4 separate regions of the Homo sapiens genome follow, and regions 2, 3 and 4 are each linked to region 1. The links come from fine-mapping of genetic effects on gene expression. A gene starts in region 1. Each other region holds a variant in brackets. All regions are shown on one strand. Distances are between the middles of the regions.

Evidence for each region. PIP is the estimated chance that this variant, and not a neighbour inherited with it, causes the effect.
Region 2: its variant is fine-mapped to the expression of IL18R1 in whole blood (TOPMed, PIP above 0.99).
Region 3: its variant is fine-mapped to the expression of IL18R1 in transverse colon (GTEx, PIP 0.99).
Region 4: its variant is fine-mapped to the expression of IL18R1 in whole blood (INTERVAL, PIP above 0.99).

What each region holds. Positions count from the first base shown.
Region 1 is chr2:102,353,852-102,358,851 of GRCh38, forward strand. IL18R1 (interleukin 18 receptor 1) reads left to right here and starts at 1,945. Exons shown (of 11, transcript NM_003855.5): 1 at 1,945-2,549. RefSeq lists an enhancer at 1,714-2,215 and silencers at 1,810-1,919, 1,940-1,999.
Region 2 is chr2:102,406,347-102,411,551 of GRCh38, forward strand. It overlaps the pseudogene SDR42E1P5. Among named protein-coding and RNA genes, the nearest start is that of IL18RAP, 14 kb to the right of the region's middle. The variant G/A (reference allele first, on the strand shown) is at 2,375.
Region 3 is chr2:102,067,537-102,072,733 of GRCh38, forward strand. It overlaps a transcript of IL1R1 not described here. Among named protein-coding and RNA genes, the nearest start is that of IL1R1, 73 kb to the right of the region's middle. The variant G/A (reference allele first, on the strand shown) is at 3,109.
Region 4 is chr2:102,457,234-102,462,407 of GRCh38, forward strand. No RefSeq gene overlaps it. Among named protein-coding and RNA genes, the nearest start is that of SLC9A4, 13 kb to the right of the region's middle. The variant A/AAAGG (reference allele first, on the strand shown) is at 2,364.

The DNA.
Region 1 (5,000 bases):
TTGCCTGTTCAAGGGTCTTCTCTGTATTTTTATGAAATATTTACGGTTCTAGCTTTTATGTTTAGGTCCATGGTCTATTGTGAATTGATACTTGTATATAGAACAAGGCAAGGACAAAGTTCTTTTTTCTGCTGCTGCTTCTTCTGTAGAGGTACCCAGCTGTTCCAGCAATGTTTGTGAAAGACTGTTTTTTCCCCACTGAATTGACATGGTGCTTTGTTAAAAAAATCAATTGACTAGATATGTGTGGATCTATTAGTCTACTTTCTATTTTGTATGTTTGTATGTTTCTGTGAATATCACATTGCCATAATTACTATTGCCTTATTATAAATCCTCAAGTCAGTATAAGTCTCTCAACTTTGTTCATCTTTGTCAAGATTGCCCAGACAGGCCGGGCAGGTGGCTCACCCCTGTAATTTCAACACTTTGGGAGGCTGAAATGGGTGGATCACCTGAGGTCGAGAGTTCAAAACCAGCCTGACCAACACGGAGAAACCCTGTCTCTACTAAAAATACAAAAGTAGCCAGGCGTGATAGTGCATGCCTGTAATCCCAGCTACTCGGGCGGCTGAGGCAGGAGAATCGCTTGAACCCGGGAGGCGGAGGTTGCAGTGAGCCGAGATCGCGTCATTGCACTCACTCCAGCCTGGGCAAGAAGAGCAAAACTCCGTCTCTGTCCGGACAATCCTAGATTATTTGCATTTTCATATGAATTTTAGAAACAGCTTCTTAATTTCTTTGAAAAATTTTCCTGGGATTTGGATTGAATTGTATTAAATATATAGATTCTGTAATATATAGAGTCTAAAAATATACAGTGTGGAGAATAGATGTCTTAAGTCTTCCAATCCGTAAACGTGGTATATCCCTTTATTACTTAGATGTTTCATCTCTGTTAGCAATATTTTGTAGTTTTCACAGGAGATATCTCATATATTATCCAATGAATTTATACTTTGGTATTTTGATTTTTAAATGCTATGGTAAATGGCATTTTTAACAAACTTCACTTTTCAAGTTTCCATCTCTAATATATAGAATTGCTATTGATTTTTATATTCCATGATCTTGATAAACTTAATATTTCCAGTAGTTTTTTTTTTTGTAGATTTCAAAAGTTGGTCTACATATAATTATGCTCTCTGTTAAAACCAGTAGTTTTAATTCTTTCTTCTCAATCTTTATGCTTTCTAATTTTATTTTTATTTCTTCACTTGTTGCAAAGCAGTTGTCCCAGGTGGGAGCCAAAATCCTTATCTCATTACTAATCTTAGGAAAAAGTAAAATGTTTCACTATTATGAGGTCACCTGTAGGTTTCTTATAGATGTTCTTTATCAGATTAAGAAAGATCATTTCTACTCTCGGTTTTCTGATCGTTATTAATTCAGAAAGGGTGTTGAATTTTGCCAGATGCTTTTATTTGCATTTATTGAGATAATTACATATTTTTATTTATTATGTGGTGAATTATCTAAATTGGGTAAAAAGAATTAAAATCATTGTCCAATTGAACATTTTGCCTGTCGGCTATGGGTTTCCCTTTTCCTTTGGTTAAATAACAGTTCTGCCACAAAATAAAAATCTAGAAACACACATTCCCCTTTGGCCTCCTTAAAAAAAATTAAAACTTCAACAATTGCACCCCTCTCTATTACTTCCCTATAGTGAACTCCCATCCTTCTGGGAAAGCAAAAAGCCTGGGGCGCATTTGTGTACTTGAGACGCGGAGCCCCTCTCACCTTCGGCATCCCCCGGGGACCCCTCTTCCACCCTCAGCCCTCCCCTCCTCTTCCTCTGAAGAGCCGGGCGGCCGCTGCGGCCAGCGGTCCTCCCTCCTGGCATCCTCTGCTGTGAACCGCGGCCTGCAGGGTGCTTGCGAGCGGCCCGGGCGCGCCCCCTTCCGGCCCCGCAGGTCACCCGGCTACAGCCCGGGTTTTCCCGGGACCCGCGCCGCGCGGCTGGGCAGGAAGCGCCAGACGCCTGGGGCCCACGCCGTCCGCGGGAAAAGGGCAAGGCGCTGGGTTTTCCAGCAGCAACCTTTGGACCCCGCGATCCAGTAGCTCCGGTAACTCCACGCGGGGCGTCTGGGTGGAGGAGCCGGTCCTGGAGCACGGCTGCGAGGAGCACCCGGACCGGAGGGTCCCCAGACCGGGACCTCCGAGTCAGGGAGGATTCTACGCCAGGGAGCGCCCCAGACTGAGAGCGCCCCAGACCGCTACACTCCCGGACCCGGAGCTTCGCCCGACCGCGGGCAGTGCCCACCTGCAGCCTCCACCGGCCGGGGTTAGCAGCCAGGAGCTGCCAGACGCCTGACATTCTTCTTTCTGTTCCTACTTTTTTTCCTTCTTCTTCTTTTTTTTTTTTTTTGTAGCCCTCTCTGGGTGCCTTATCTCTTTAATCACACCTCTCTTTCACTTTCCACGGTAGTCAGGAGGCGGAGATCGCTGCTTCTCACCTACTTTCTGAACTTGGCCTCCGCAGTCGCGACCTGGCGTGAAGGAGGAGCTGCCGCCCCCGCCCCAGCCTCGGGGACGCCTCTCTGAAGGTAAGGGTGGGCTCCGCTGCCACCCGCATCCCCTCCCCACCCCCCAGAGGAAGGGAAGACCACCATCCGGGGAGGGATTCTCAAAACAAGATCAATTAAGAGAGAGAGAGAGATAGTGTGTGTGTGAATACGTGTGAATAATTGATGAGACAGCATCCTGTCTTTCTCTGAAAGTATAGTTTTAGAAATTAAGACATCCCCAATTATTTTCTGGAGAGGTGAGAACGACTGAAATAAATGATAACAATAGTTGTCATTTTTTAAGTGCTTACTGTGTGCCTGACACTGTAGAAAATTTTTAGATATCTTATTTTCACTTAATCCTCCTAAGGGCCACATGAAATAGGAACTATTATTATGCTTTAATAAAAGGGAGGAGGAATTCCGTCATTTACCCAAGAGTATCCAGCTACTAAGTAGTAGATCCCAGATCCACACCTACAGTTTTTCTGATTCCAGAGCCTTTGTCTTTTTTCTGCCCAGCCTTGGGAAGTTAAAATGCCCAGCACCTTGCATCGCAGTTATCAGACAAATTAATGAGGTGTCAATTGCAGCCAGATACAGAGATCCAAGATTATTGTATTCATTTCACTGACTTCCCTTGCTTCATTCTCAAGACCCTTTGCAAATACTGATTTTGTGTCATACACAGTGCTGCTATTGGGAGCACACCTCTCAACCTCAGGGCCTTGGATGGGCTAGGAGGGGTAAATTTGGGGAATTGGGTTTGTGCAGGTTCTGGGGACAGTGTTTTCCCTCTCCCTGCACAAATATACATCCAAAGGCTGAGAACTAAGGCTAAGGCCTAGGAATGTGGATTGAAAAGGCAGGGTCTAAATCCCAGCACTTGGGAGGCTGAGGTGGGCGGATCATGAGGTCAGGAGATCGAGACCATCCTGGCTAACATGGTGAAACCCCGTCTCTACTAAAAATACAGAAAATTAGCCAGGCATGGTGGCATGCATCTGTAATCCCAGCTACTCGGGAGGCTGAGGCAGGAGAATCCCTTGAACCTGGGAGGCAGAGGTTGCAGTGAGCAGAGATTGTGCCACTGCACTCCAGCCTGGGCGACAGAGTGAGACTCTATCTCAAAAAAAAAAAAGAAAAAAAAGAAAAGGCAGGGTCCCTGCCTTCAGGGACCTCACCAGAGAGTGGGAGCTAGTCCAGGAGTGATGGAAACACCTGCAGAGTGATGGAGACGGGCTTGGACATAGGCATGTGCCATTTGGGGCTGTTGCAGTTGGAGAGCTTCCTTGAGAAGGCAAATACTGAGCCAAGTTGAAAGGACTCTAGGGACCTGGCATCTGGGATAAGTGGGGAGGGTGGCCCAGGTAGCACAGGCATAGGCAGATTTGGGGGGAAGCATAAGGCTAACAACAGACACTTGTGTGACAAGGACTATGAGGTGGCATTGATTTTCTTGGCCTTACAGATGAGAAGCCAGATTCCACACAAATTATTTTGTTTGTTAGAGTTTAAGCGTGTGTGTGTGTGTGTATGTTATGCCCCAAGATCATTTTCTCCTCTTTGCATTTGGTTGTTTTATCATCTCACAGGCTGAGTAAAACGACTATGCATGGAACACTGTAGAAGAAAAATTATATTAAAAAAAAACTGGTGTTATGATTTTCATCCAGGCATTTTGTCTCAGGAGTTGCTCGATTGTATGTGTTGCTAATGAGTGATTTATATTGAGGCATCTACATTGATTCATGTGTGTCCTTGTGAATAGCTGTAATCTGAGGCTGGCCATTTCACTTCCTCAAATCTCAGGTTCCTCATTAGAAAGAGCTTTGAAATGGCTCTTTCCCTGTACATTATGTGTTTCTGTGAATTACTTTTAGAGAAAGGTCAGTTTCTCAGGGTGGGACCCATAAACAAGGGCAACTGGGCAGAGCCAGGGGTTCAGGTGACTGTTTGGACCCTCTGGAAGGGCTTTTTACTGTGCTGCCTTGGGAGACAGAGTGGTCAGCTTGGAACTGACCTTAAGCCTAGGTCACCCAATTTTTGAAGGAAACTTTTTTTTTTCATTTAGAGAAAACTTCATGCCTTTGGGTGATTAGGTAAGTTTGTGACTATTCGTTATGTGTGTGTACACACACGTACGTACATATGTACATGCACAAATATTTAATATGTCTTAGACACACCAAATATATGCATTTAAGATGTATTAAATGTACTTTCCTGAGAATACAAATAAGTGCCCTACGTCGGCGGCTCTCTTCCTGACTGTATGTTAGAGTCACCTGCGGAGTTCTGAGGACTCAAGATGCCCAGTCTGTCCTCCAGACCACTGGGTGGAGCCCGGGCATCATTATTTTTTTCCAAACTTGGGTGAGAGCTGGTGGCCTAGACTTCACATTAGTTGCTAAAACATACTTTCCAAGATATCATGCGTTAAAAAGCATTTCAAAAGTAGATTGTGCAGATGTGCCAATGGATCAGATG
Region 2 (5,205 bases), 53 kb after region 1:
CATAAGTGTGTGTTTATTTTTGTTCAAAACCTTTTCTGCAACTTTGGAGGTGACCATATAGTTTTAGACCATATAGACCATTCATATTCCATAGAGAATGTTAATGTTTTCATAATATCAAACCAACTTTGCAGTTATGCAATCCTAATGAATTTTAAAAATATGTATTTTATGTGCTAATATTTTATTTAGAACTTTGTATATATACTTCTAAGTAAGATTTGTCTGTAGTTGTGTGTATGTGTGCAAAACCTTTGCCATAGCATCCCATTATTAAATATTAGTAGACAGTGAAAAATCCTTACATATTTAAGAAAATCCTTTACTATGAAAGGCCATGATTAACAAATAACAAAATGGAACTTGGAGATAACAGAGATAAGCCAAAGGAAAAACATATTTAAAGAACAAACTTTAATATTTTCAGAGAGACAAGAAAAGATATTACATCAGAGCATAATAAAGATGAGTTGGAAATTAGAAATGAATTAGCTAAAGTGGAAAAGACAATATCAGGGTTGGAGGATAATGAAGTGTTACCCAGAATGTAAAACAAGGAGCTAAATAAATGAAAATAGAGAAAAAATAGAAGAATTTGCAAATTAGTCTAATAACATTTTTGGAAATAAGAAAGCATCTCAAAATAGAATGATATGAAGCTCCAGATTGAAAGAGCCCACCAATTAATTACTCAGCAAAATGGAGACAGAACTGCCTTAACATTTTGGAAGAAAATATTATGTATTGCCTAAATTTCTCTACTGAGTCAAACAATTATTCAAATATGAGGGTAAAATAGATATTTTCAGACAAGTAAGGCCTCAAGATATTTCCTGCCATGTCCCTTTGTCTGAGATCTCCTGGAAGAAGCGGTCCTCCATAAAGGGAACATATAGTACTTTGGGCTTCAGGGAAATGGAATCCAGCTAAGGAAAATGGTGGAAGGCATCTCCAGATCTCCAGACTGATGATAAATGGAAATCCAATGCTGGAAATTGTGCATTTGCCATATTTAAGCAGAAGAGCAAGTTCTAGGTAGATGGTCTTTAGGAAGGAGATTTCCTAATGTGTTGAATGCATTGAAAATGCATTAATGTGAGAATGCATTAATTTTCCACTAGAAATACATTTCTAGTGGAGAATTTAAAAAAATATTAATGAAAGATATAAAGAAATTTAACTAAATGAATACAAATAATTTTTTGTACTATTCAAGGACTGATAATGAATAATAATAGAATTTAATTTGGAAAATGCAAGAAGGGGATCATTGAAAATTTGATAGGATCAGTGTAAATTTCTTTTGTTACTAAATGAGTGCTGGAATTTGAATATTTTGGAAAGTAAGTTGGGTGACAGGAGGTAATTGCCAAGGGAGTGGGTTGCTTTCAATTGGGAATATAGAGGCATAGCAATTATTAGCAATGACAAGTCTAGGTTATGATTACAGGAATAAATAGTGAAGTAAGGATGGAATACAAGAGCTTTAGAGGAGAGGAAGTCAAAGAACTGAGAGACGGGGACGTTAAACGGATCATCTATATCAATGCTAATACCAAGAATCAAAGCAGGAAGAGTTCTGAAGAGTAAGAGTAAGCCCAGAACTAAACTCTTCAGGGAATAAAGCAGAGTGTCCCAGGGCTTTGTGGATGACTGCAACAAGTAGGGATACTGGGTGGGATAGCCCAAGGACATGATATTTGAAGCTGGGGGTTCTTAGGGAGGAGGGAGGTACAGTGGCTGGAAACCAATGGTACCTGGAGTCTGGGAGGGAAAACAACCACCATGTAAGTGAGCTGCTAGAGAAACTATGTCCTGAGGGGAGACTCAAGCAGCAGGTTGTGGGGGACAGATGATTGAAAGTCTAGAGAAGAGCGTGAAAATATTAGAGCTCATCGCCTTCACCATCTACACGTAAGGTTTAAAAAAAATTAATGAAAATTCAGTGAATTATCTCGAGAAGCCATCCTTCAGTCCTCAGGTTGGCTAAGAGCTCCTCTCCTGTGTTCTGCTGTGTATCTTTGTCTAGCATTACAGTATAAGAAGTGACCTTTAGAGATTCTGCTCCCTCAACTCAACTGTTAACCCTTGAAGGACAAAAATCATCTCATATTCATCTGTAAGATGACAGTTCCCAGTGAGAAAAGAAAAAGAGTTCAGAGCAGCATGAGCCATGTGAGGTATGCAAAGTTTATCAGGCCCAGAGAGACATAAGTATGAGACTAAAGTCATGGCCTCTCTCCACCCATGCCTGGTGGCATCTTCCTGCCCCCAAGCATGACTAATTCAAGCCAATTAGGCCTTCCCGCTTTATGGTTGGAGGTCAGGCTCGCATCCATGGCATAGACAAGATCTAGGGAACTCAAAGGTTACC[G/A]ACAGCAGGGGAAAGGCAGCGCGTAGGTAAATGCGGACAGTTCCCACTCCCAGGCCCCCTGTTAACATGGGTGAAAAGCTGCATTGGCACCCACGGGTTGCACCCTGCTGAGGTCACTAGGACTTGGGAATATAAGGATGGAAGAAAGAAAAGGGGATGCTTCTTTCTCTCCCTCACATACCCCAGGTATTTGCTGGGAAGATAAAGAAACTAAGGATGCCTTTTTCCCTTCTTTCTAGATGGGTAACCAATCATCTTCAGCGTGTGTTTCTCTCAAATGCCTCCTGAATCACTGGGATTCCTTTGAGGAAAAAAGAAAAAGCCTTCTTTCCCCTTTTGCCTCCTCTGTCCTCTCTTCACAGATGGGTAATTGTGTCCCCATACCACAGGACACTCCCCTTGGGTGCACCCCCCAAACAGGGAAAACTTAATTACCCCAAACCTTAAGCTGCTTGGCTTAAAACCGAGCTCAGGGGAAGGGAACCCAGAAGTCTGACATGCCGGCAAAAGGATAAAAGTTTTTACCAGTCGGATTTCTGGCTTCCCTCTCCCTGTACAAATGATTGAATGGATGATAAAATCACTGTTTATATCCTCTGTGAAGTTTGGATTAATGGAAAAAAGAATTTATGAGGCCAGTCTTAAGCTGTAACCAATCTGGTGTGCTTGGCGTGACTTTCTATATGGTTCTGCATGAAGAGGAGTACCTTAGGATAGAATATGGGCCTAGGACCCCATAAGCCTACTGTTCAAGCCAGCCAGGCAAATGGTCAGCAACCAGCTTCGGGTCTCCATCTTGTTTTATGTTCTTGGGAGTTTGACATTGTAACCATGTGGCAATACTTTGTTTTGGTCTCTGCCATTTTATAACGGCAGCCTGGGTTCAATTCTGGCTTAGGGAATGAGTACTTTCTGGTTAATATCGTGTGACTTTTACCATTTGCTGATTTTCTTCCCCTCTGTGAACAACTTCTAGCTTCCTTTCTTAAATCTTCCTTTCTCAGAGTCACCTTTAAAGATTCCAGATTTTGTAAAAACTGCTTACCACTACTTTGAAAATACCTCATACACTCACAGTTAAGTCATAACCTTAGTTGAGGCTTGTTGGTTTCATCTGTGAGGTTACTTTCCATAAAGTTCAAAAGCCAGAAATATTGGCCGCGTGGCCTGGCTAAAGTCGGTTAACAGGGGACTTAAAAAGACTTTCTTAAAGAGTGCTCAGCTTAATTAAAAGTGGATATCCAAGGTATTGGTATATTTAAAAGGCCTTTTTTTTTTCCTTGGATCTTGTTTTTCTGGAAAAAGGCTTTTTCTCAGTCAACTGAATTATTTTTTTCCATTTAGTCTTGCCATTCTCGGTGCACGCATGAGAGGCCCTAAGATAACTTGTGAGAGCATGGGACTCCTTGGGAAAAACAGAGAAGGTGCTAGAGACCCCATTTTGGGAAGAAAGCTCTGTTTTCCTTATGGAACCCCGAAATTAAAAACAGATAGGTCCCTCCCAAAATCTGTTTTTGTTTTCCAGCTATGCCTGTTTCTTGGGCCCTGAAAACTGCATGCTTTCCTAGCCCTGCTTCTTGAAGGACTCCACCCTGAGGCCAATGACCCAATTAGGAGATAGGCAAATGAAAAAATCTTTTTTTGTTTTTGAAACAGCATCTTGCTCTGTCACCCAGGCTAGAGTGCAATGCTGCAGTCTCTGCTCACTGCAACCTCTGCCTCCCGGGTTCAAGCGATTCTCCTGTCTCAGCCCCCCGAGTAGCTGGGATTACAGGTGCACACCAAAACACCCAGCTAATTTTTGTATTTTTAGTAGAGATGGGGTTTCACCATGTTGGCCAGGCTGGTCTCGAACTTCTGACCTCAAGTGATCTGCCCACCTTGGCCTCCCAAAGTGCTGGGATTACAGGCATGAGCCACTGTGCTCGGCTCCAAATGAAAAATCTTACAACTACTGGATCTTCTTCTGTCTGTCTGTGTAATCATATGTGTTATGTGTGTGATGGTTATATAAAACAGCTCTAATTCATTGACCTAAAGAAAAATAAACACTTAGATCAAATATTTTTCAAGGAGAAATAAAAGCTGTAATGCCTTTTAGTTCATGTGACTTTAATCTTTGAAACATAAAAACAGTTTTAAAGATAATTGGTAAAGTGCAAATGTCTTCATATGTAAATATATGGTCTAAATTATGTGGGTCAGATACTAGGTTTGCTAAATGTTTTAAGGTTATAAACTACTTTTTTAGCTTTTGAGAACCATTTGATTTGTATACTTTACAATTTGGGAAGGCTTGTGGACATATGGAATTGCCCACCCCTTTAACTATGCTGGAAAGAGTAAGACCTTATCTGTGAATAGAACATAATTAAAATAACTTACCAGAGGCCAGTCTGAGGGCTCCAGTGCCCAAGTAGAGGCAGCAGGTGGCTCCCAAGGCCTGGGCCAGCCGGCCTTCTTCAGTCTGAAGGCCACGCCCTTCTTCCTGCTGCTGTCCAGTTGTCTTTTGACTGCCACATATGGACCCCCAAAGATCTCCAAAGGAAACTTTCCTCATTACAGGAGGAGGTGGCTATTTTGGTTTCCACCTGGGCCATGCTCTGAACCAAAAGGGAGTCCACGTAATTCTATTTGACATCAGCAGTCCTGCTCAAACCATTCCAGAAGGAATCAAGTTTGTACATGGAGACATCCGCCACCTCTCTGACATAGAGAAAGCCTTGACACAGATGTCACATGTGTGTTCCATATTGCCTCTTATGGTTTGTCAGGGAAGGAGCAACTAAATCAAAACCTGATCAAAGAGGTCAGCATTGGGAGTACAGACA
Region 3 (5,197 bases), 290 kb before region 1:
ATCCCAGTGTGCCCAGGCCTGAGGGATCTCTTGGGCTGCAGGACATTCAATCCTAAAACCAGGACTATCTTGGGCAAACTAGGATGGCTGGTCATCCAGGGAAGGTAAGGGGCCAGCATGAAGATAGCAGTGTGACATTTAGTCATAATTACACCAAAATGGGACTTTCTTTCTCTATAATTGATCTTAACTTAGCTCATGAATCCCTACTTCTGCTTATGGTGGAAAAATTCAGTTTTTTCCAGCTGGTATGGTTTGAATGTGTCCCCACCCAACTCTCACCTTGAATTTTAATAATTCCCACTTGTCAAGGGTGAGGCCAGGCCGGGCACGGTGGCTCACGCCTGTAATCCCAGCACTTTGGGAGGCCGAGGTGGGCAGATCACGAGGTCAGGAGATCGAGACCATCCTGGCTAACACGGTGGAACCCTGTCTCTACTAAAAATACAAAAAATTAGCTGGGCGTGGTGGCAGGCACCTGTAGTCCCAGCTATTTGGGAGGCTGAGGCAGGAGAATGGCGTGAACCCGGGAGGCGGAGGTTGCAGTGAGCTGAGATCGCCCACTGCACTCCAGCCTGGGTGACAGAGCGAGACTCTGTCTTAGAAAAAAAAAAAAAAAGGGGGTGAAGGGGTGAGGCCAGGTGGAGATAACTGAATCATGGGGGCAGTCTCCCTGATACTGTTCTCAAGGTAGTGAATAGGCCTCATGAGATTTGATGGTTTTATAAAGGGCAGTTCCCCTGCACACACTCTCTTGCCTGAAGCCATGGCAGCCATGTAAGATGTGACATTGCTCCTCATTTGCCTTCTGCCATGATTGTGAGGCCTCCCCAGCCATGTGGAACTGTGAGTCCATTAAACCTCTTTCCTTGATAAATTACCCAGTCTTGGGTATGTCTTTATGAGCAGTGTGAGAACAGACTAATACACCATCTCAGGGTCACTCAGGTCCTCTCAGTCCTACATATGGTTACTTAAGGGTTTGAAAGAGCTCAAGATTCTTTGCCTTTCTTCTTTTCCTCTCTTCTCTCATTGCTGCCCACAATTGGAGCTGCTTAGTGATATGGACCTGGTCACTGCACCTTGTGCTGTTGATTTCTGTGTGTCCTGCATGGGCCCTGCATGGGTCCGTGGGGCACGTGCTTTGTAGGAATAGCCCAGGAACTTTCCAAAACCCTTCTGTAGCTTGCTGGGGTGATTTGAACCTTGAGACTTCCCTCAAGCCCATCTTCCCAGGTATCCCTCCCTCCCCTACCCACTGCCAACCCCCTTGTTGCCCATCCACAGGCTCCATCGTGGAGTGGGCTTCAATCCAAGGTTTACAGTCTCTGGCTGGAGCCTGGAAATCAACACAATTTCCTCGTTTTCTCATGCCCCCTACTCCCTAACTTCCATTTCTGCCCCAACCCTAGTCATCTTCCCTCAGTGTTCATTGTGTTATGTGCTGGTTCAAACGTGTACTTCCCTTGAACAGGAACTCTCTGGTTTATGGCATAACGTTATGCTCCAGGCTCTTGATATATAAGGATATGTTCTAGAGTTCCAACAAATAAAAGCAAAAATAAAACCAAAATTCTTCTCTCTCAAGTGGCAGACTTAAAAGTCAAGGTTTTTAAGATTCACATTTTGAAAAATCAGCTTGGTGACTATGCTGGTTTCTCGACTCCATCCTGTGCTTGCCCTCCTGTCAGGGCAGTGCCCGGCGAATGCAACCTGCTGCCTTAGTGTGGGGGCAGAAGGCATAGGGGAGGATGGAGGAGAGAGTCGGCTCTGGAGTGAGGTTTGAAGGCTTACTGGAGATGTGTGACCGGAGATTGACTTTAAAGGGCAAACTTTGGCTAAGGGGGTGCGGGGGCTGGAAACCCCTTCCACAGAAGAAACCTGGCAAGAATCAAAGCACAAAGTTGGCTGCGCCTGGTGTCAGCCCCTGATAAGCAGCCTGACTGCAGGGGAGGACGTGGCTACAGGGCAGATAAGATGTAAGGGTGGCTGAGGAGGTCCCTGGGCAGTTTATCTCATACCTCCCACTGGCTTCTGCGAGCCCAGGTGGGTGCCAAGGTTAGCCACCTCCCCCAAACCTGCTCTCCTATTCGCAGCACAACCCTCCTGGACAAAGCGTTTTTCCTCAGCCTTCACCACCCATGGAGGAGGTGTGATTACCTCTATTCACAGAAAGGAGACTGGGACCCAACCAAGGCAAGTCATTTGCTTCAGACCACAGAGCAAAGAATCATTCTGTCATTCCAGAAATATTTGTCAGGCGCCCCTGGTGTGTCAGGTAGGTGCACCTTGAACATTTGTTTAATTTGTACTTAATAACATTTTCAAGAGGACATTACCTCCTTAAGTGAAAAATCTGTGAGGAGTTTTCTATCTTTCTAAGTCTTTGTGGCACACTTATCACATGCATAGTACTATTTCTCAAGTTACCCAGGCACACACAGATGTATGGCTTTCAGGAAGCCATACATCTGTGTAGCTCTGAGGCCCAGCCTTGTTCAACACTTCACTCAGAAGAATTGCTGGCCTGATGACCAACAATAATTGTCAACAACTTAAAACTTCATTGACGGCTCCTAAAAAAAATCAGTGTGCATGTGTGTGTGTATGTGTGTGTGCGTGTGTGTGTGTGTGTGTGTATGAGTGTGTGTATAACATTCATTACTGCAAACTGGAATGGAGTGGGGCTGGAAGGCAGCCCAGAAGCAAGGCTCAGAGCCTGGAGCTGCTGACCTCTTGGGGACACTGCAGCCCTGGCCTGGCCTACTTTTCTCTTCTCCCATATCTGGAAAATGAAAGTAGCCTGACGTATCCGGGGACCCGGCCCAAGACTCCACCCATTGGCAGCTCTTCACTTGTATCTTTTCATATCAAAAATGGGAGGTGACACCCAGTTTAAGGAAAATTCCAAGGCATTTGTCTCGACTAATGTGAAAGATGATTACAGTGGCCAGAGGACTGCCAAGGCTCCTTCTCAAGCTGCTTGAGTCAATGAGGGTAAGGTTTTAAAGGGCCCGCCCTGGCTTCCTTGGGCCTGTAGTTTGTGACTGTGTCGTTTTCAGAGTGGGAAGGCCCAGAGTTGGCCCCATGGAATTCTTTCTGCTTCTA[G/A]GGTGTTTGAAGAGATAGAAAGCCAGGGTAAGGTTCACCGAACCTCCAAGCAAAAATAAATTTCCAGAAGGGGCCCCTTTACTCTGAGGACATTGAATAGCAACAAAAACTACCACTGAAGAGTCATTTTGTCCCAGGCCCTGTGCTGGAAACTTTGAACACCTGTGTTCACCCCTCCCTCATGACACTCATGAAGATATACCATGGCTGTCTTTATTTTCTAGGTGGGAATCTCAGGCTTGAGGGTTGGGGTGGCTTGGGGAAGGTGTGTATCTAAGAGGTAGCTCTTATTTATTTTTACTTCTAGAGATTAAGACACATTCTTTTTCAAGATAGACATGGAACTGTCAAAAAGGATTAAAAGTTAAATAAGGATAAGGTTATGTAAATTGATCTTATGTAAAAAAAAACACTAAGATATTTGAAGACTAGGCATCATTATGTGTTATATCATGATTTTTAAAATGATGCTACCAAGAGTACTTCAGAGGTCCAAAGCTGAAATATATTTGTATACTTATATATATAAAGTAAGGGATACTTATTTAAAACCTCAAAAAATCAGAAGTATGTAAAGGAAGAAATAAAAGCTCCCTCTTCCCTTCTGATTCTAATTTATATCAAATTTATATCTCTATCTGTAGCTCAATTTGCCTTTTTAACTAAATAGGGTGATATCACACATATCATTCCTTAACACTTTTCTCTCTTAACGACTTCTAATGGACATCTATTTGTGGCACTGTATATAGGGCATACTTTCTTGAAAAATCCATTGCATGGTATTTTATTCTTGAATAAATCACTTGCATGGCATTTTATTGTAAGATTGTGTCATAATGTATTTATTCAGTTCCCTGGTGATGGCTTTATCATGTGGCTTTTGGCTGAAAGTATCAGAAAGTGGCCCAAACTGGCTTACATAAATTTACCATCTCATGTAACTGAAGTTCAAAGAAAGAGTGGCTTCTGAGTGGGTTCCATACTACTAGCATAATATTTGGCATTTCCCTGTATGTCCCCTCCTCTGTGTGTTGGTTTTGTTTGAAGATTCTTTCCCTTTATGGTGGCAAAATGGTTTTTGTAGTGGCACCAGGCTTTACAACCTCTTGTGAGGGAAGAGGGAGAAATGCCATGCCTTAATGTGCCAAGAAGGAGGTGTGAGATCCACCCTGGTTGAACCCCATGGTGCCGGTGTCCTCTCCTAGACCAGTGGCTGCCAAGGGCCATCTTCCGAGGAAGCACCTGGACTATACATCCTCCACAATGGGCCCTTAGAATTGGTCCATATTTTTCAAAATTGCAAATAATGTGTAAAATCATTGTACTTGGCCGGGTGTGGTAGCTTATGCCTGTAATCCCAGCACTTTGGGAGGCCGAAGTGGGGGGAATCAGCTGAGGTCAGGAGTTCGAGACCACCCTGGCTGACACGGCAAAACCCCGTCTCTAGTAAAAATACAAAAAAATTAGCTGGGCATGGTGGCCTGTGCCTGTAATCCTAGCTACTAGGGAGGCTGAAGCAGGAGAACTGCTTGAACCCGGGAGGTGGAGGTTGCAGTGAGCCGAGATTGTGCCATTGCACTCCAGCCTGGGTGACAGAGCAAGACTCTGTGTCACCAAAAAAAAAAAAAAAGAAAAAAATTCGTACACTTTACATATAGCACTGTTTACTTGGGCAATTATCTGTTTAGGATAAACTAGAAATAATATTGCTAAGCCAAATAGAATATAGGTTTTAAAAGTTTGGCGCTTTATCCTCCAAAACAGATTTTAATAGTTTACACTTGTAATAGATGTACCTGGTTTCTTATACCTCACTTACTGGAATATTAGAAATCGTTTAGTCTCTACCAAAACATGGCATTTTTCTATTATCTTAATTCACATTTCTTTGGTTATTAGTAATCTTGAACATGTTTTTCACGTCTATTGGCTTTTTGCTTTTTGCTTATTGCTTTTTGCTTCTTTCTTTTTTCTTCTGTGGACTGTTTATTCATGTCTTTTGCAGTATTCTCTCTTGGATTTGTGAGAATTGTTTATTTATTATAAACATTAAACCTTGATTGGTAATACATGTTGCAAATATTTT
Region 4 (5,174 bases), 100 kb after region 1:
CAAATTTACCAACAGGACATAACAGTCTTAATTAAATGTGTATGCACCTAACAGCAGTGCTTCAAAATACATGAAGCAAAACTGACAGAACTAAAAGAAGAAATAGACAAATCCACGACTGTAGTTGGAGACTTGAATATTATTCTCAAGTATTGATAAAATGGTAAACAGAAATTTATCAAGAATATAGGCTGCGCGTGGTGGCTCATGCCTGTAATCCCAGCACTTTGGGAGGCCGAGTTGGGCGGATCACGAGGTCAGGAGCTTGAGATCAGCCTGCCCAGCACGGTGAAACCCCGTCTCTACTAAAAATACAAAAAATTAGCCAGGCATGGTGGCGCGTGCTTGTAATCCCAGCTACTCAGGAGGCTGAGGCAGGAGAATCTCCTGAACCCAGGAAGCAGAGGTTGCAGTGAGCCGGATCGTGCCATTGCACTCCAGCCTGGGTGACAGAGTGAGACTCCGTCTCAGAAAAAAAAAGAAGAAGAATATAGAACAACACTACTTAATTGTTGTTTTCTAGATCTACTTGACATTTATAGAATGTTCCACCCAATGATTGCAGAATACACAATCTTTTGATGTACACACCGACCATGTGCTAAGATATACCGTATCCTAGATTGTAAAACAAACAATAACAAGAATTTAGAAATTGAAATTGTACAAAGTTATATTCTGTATTTATAATGGATTTATAATGAATTCAGACTAGAGATTATTAAGAGAAAGATGGTGGGAAAAATCTCAAAACATTTGGAAATTAAGTGACACATTTCTCAATAATCTATGGATAAAAATGGAAGTCTCAAAGCAAATGAAATGATATTTTCAAATGAATGGAAATGAAAATGCAACATATCAAAATTTGCAAGATGAGACTAAAGCCATGCTTAAGGGCAAGTATATAATATTAAATACTTATGTTAAAAGAGGAAAATATATAAATTAATAATCTAAACTTCCACCTTAGGAAGCCAAAAAAAAATAATAAATTTGAGAGCAGAAACCACTGCCATTGAATAACATAAAACAATAAAGAAAATCAATAGTACAGGAACCTGGTTCTTCGAGAGCATCAATAAAACTGAAAAACTCCTAGCAAGACTGACCAAAAAAAAAAGAAGAAGAAGGAAGACACAAATTACCAGTATTAGTAGTGAGATAAGAGATATCAATACAGATCCTGCACATCTTAAACGAATAAGGAAATGTTATGGATACTGTATAAATACATATTTGACAACCTAAATGAAATGGATAAATGCTCAAAAACCACAAGCTAAAAATACTTATCCAATATTAAATAAATAACCTAATTGGTCATAACTGTTAAAAAAATTAATTCCTATTATTAAATTTCCAAAAATAAAATCTTCAGACCCCGATGGTTTCACTGCCTAATTCTATCAAACATTTAAAGGAAAAAAAAAATGTGAATCCTACACAATTTTTTTCAGAAAACAGAAGAAGGAACATTTCCTAAGTTATGCAAATTATTATGAGTCCAGAATTTTTCTAATACCAAAACCAAACAAAAAAAATTATAAGACAACTATAGACCAACATTCTTCATGAACATTGACACAAAAATACTCAAGAAAATATTAGCAAATTGAACCTAGTAATATATAAATAGAATAATGCATCACAACCAAGTGGAGCTTATCATGGGTATTCAGGGCAGGCTTCATATTTTAAAATATTTCAGTGTAATTCTTTATATTAACAGTGTAAGGAAGAACAAAGACATGATCATATGAACCAATTCCAAAAATATATTTGACAAAATTCACCATCGTCTCGTCATAAAACCTCTCAGCAAACTAGGCATAGAAGGGAATTTTCTCATCATGATAAGGGGCTCTAAAAACAACAACAAACAAACTATAGATGAAAAAATCATACTAAATGGTGAAAGACTGTATGTATGTTTTCTCTATAAGATGGGAAGCAAGGCAAGGATACTTACTCGCAGAATACTATACAACCTTGTATGAAAGTTTTCACCAGTGCAATAAGACGAGGAAAAGAAATAACATGCATGCAGTTTGGAAAGAAAGAAACAATCTCTCCTTTTTTTCTAAAAAGTAATTTTCTATGTAGAATATCCAAGAAAGCTATAAAAATATTCCTAGAACTGATAAGTGAGTTTAGCAAGTTCTTAGGATACATGATTAACAACGTAAAAATCAAATGTATTTCTATCTCTATTAAGAAACAATTGAAAACCAGATGTTACAGACATTACCATTTATAATAGGTCAAAAAAGAAAGAGGAAAGGAAGGAAAGAAGGAAGGATAGGGAAGGAAAGGAAGAAAGAGAAAGAAATAAGAGAGAAAGAAAGAGAGAAAAAAGAAAG[A/AAAGG]AAGGAAGGAAAGAGAAAGGAAGAAAGAGAAAGAAAGAAAGAAAGAAAGAGAGAAAGAAAGAAAGAAAGAAAGAAAGAAAGAAAGAAAGAAAGAGAGGGAGGGAGGGAGGGAGGGAGATTCATGTATAAATGAACAGAATGTGTGGATGTTCCATAAGCTAAAAACTATGAAATACTTATGAGCAAAATTAAAGAACAATTAAATAAAGAGAGAAGCATAGCATGTTTGGTGATACAAAGATTCAACATATTGTCAAATCAACAATCCCCTTTACATTGATTAAGAGGTTTAACGCAATTCCAACTGATATTCCAGCAGAATTTTTTGTAGATTATAGGCAAACTAATTCTAAAATATATGTGGGAAAGCGAATAAACTAGAAAAACCAAAGCTATTTGGAAAAGAAAATAAAGTTGGAGGAGTCATGCTAGACGATTTTATGAATCAATAAAAAGTTACAGCAACCAAAATGGTGTGATATTAACAAAGCAATAGATCAATGGAACTGAGTAGAAAGTCTAGAAATACATCCACACAAATATGGCCTATTGATTTTGACAAATTTTCAAAGGCAATTCAATAAAGAATAGAGTTTTAAACAAATGGTTTTGCATCAATTGGACATACATATGCAATAAGATGAAGCTCACAGCTTATACAAAATTAACTTGTAATAGGCCATAGATCTCAATGTAAAGCCTAAATCTATAAAACTGTTAGAAGAAAACATGACCTAGGATTAGAAAAAGAGTTCTTAGATGTAACACCAAAAGCATGATCCGTAGAGAAAAAAAAAGTTGGAGTTTAACAAAGTTAAAACCACTTTTTCCGAGAAAACCACTGCTAAAAGGATGAAAAAAAAAAACAAGCTTTAAATTGACAAAAATTATTTCAAAATCACAAGTCCAATAAAGGACTTGTGCTGAGAGTTTATAAAGATTTCTCTAAACTCAATAATAACAAGTAGCTACCAATTAAAAAAGGAGCAAAAACTTGAATAGACATTTTGCTAAAGAGGACAGACAGATGGCAAACAGGCACATAAAAAGATGTGCAACAGCACCATCCACTGGGAAAATGGAAATTAAAGCCACAAGGAGAAAACACACACACACACACACCATGGGGCACATAGAGAAAAAGAAAAGAAACCTAACAACACGAAATGGTGATGATGTAGAGAAACTAGAACTCTCATATACTACTGGTGAGAGTGCAAAATAGTGCAGCCACCCTACAAAACAATTTAACAAGTCCTTATAATGTGACTTCCTTACTAGATGCCCAAAACATCCTACTTGTAGATATTTACCCCAGAGAAATAAAAACTTACGTTCACACAAAATCCAATACACAAATGTTTATTGTGGCTCTACTCATAATAACTAATACCTAGAAAAACTCAAGGACTTTCAACCAGTATGTGTCAGCTAAAGTCCAATCAAAAGACAGAAATCATGTAGTAATTTAAAAAGGGATATTATGATATAAATGATTATTTGGCTGTGATGAGAGACTGATTATAAGGACATGAATAGAACTCCAAAGAGTATCTCAGGGCTGAGAGATAGTAGAAAGACAAAGTTGCAAGTGGTCCCCTCCCCAAGACTGGGGTTCAGACATCACTAGAAGCAGTGTGGTGTAGCCCACTGAATGGCAAGGAAGGTCTCTTACGTGCCTGGGTCAGAGCTAGTTCACAGTTGCTGGGAAAGCTGGAAGCAAACCTGTCAGGTGCAGTCAAGCCATGGCTGGTGGGCAGACATGCAGCATGGCCAGGCCATGACTGCTTTAGGATGCAGGCGAGCTGTAGTTGATATGCGGGTACACAGGGCATTCAGAATGCCACTGTGGGCATGCGGCCTGGAGTGCACAGTGTCCACATCAGGAAGATATTGGGAGGTGGTCACCTGGCCTAAGCTAGTACTGCGAGGTCACTGAGCAACGGCTTCCTCTGGATATAGCTAGTGCAGAGCACCAACAGATGTCTACACACACACACTGCTGCCTGATGGTGCAGCACAAGTGAGAAAAAAAAACAGAACACAGCAGCTGGAACCAGACGGACCCTCCTGTAATGCTTGTCCAACTCCCTGTACCAAAGAGGTGAATACTATGCTCACTGTATAGGATGAATGCTTCAAAAATTCAATCCATTACACACAGCAGGTACTGAATGGTGAATTCAGAGCTGTGAGGTAATACATTGATAACTGGTGATAAATTGATAACTGGTATAGGGTGAATTAATTAACAAATAGTTGTACAAGCAAACCATGAAATACTTCTCAGCAATACAAAGGAATTCACCACTGAGACATGCACCAGCTTGGATAAATCTCAATGCAGTATGCTGGGTAGAAAAAGCTTATCTCTAAAGGTTACATGATTCCATTTCTATGACATTTTCAAAAAGTCAAAACAGTGACAGAACAGATTATTGGTTTCCAGGAGTTAGGGATGGAGGAGGGCGGGTCTCAAAGAAAGAGCATGTAACCTGATTGTCTTGGTGATTATGTGAATTTACATCCGTATTTAAATGCACACAACTGTAAATCAAACAAGCTAATTTTATTGTATGTTAATTTAAAAATAAAAATGTAAACCCATTCTCCCTAACCCTACCAAGATGTCCACTGCTCCTGGTGCACCTGATGAAGGTGATACCTTCTCTGTCTCCACCTCGTCTTCTGCCCCATGCAGTAAAGCCCCTAATGGTCCATTCTTCCAATGTGACTCTAACCTGGTTATTCTGCACAGCATTCACCTGGTTCATGGGGAATTGGATGCCCACTTTCCCCACCATTGCTCCC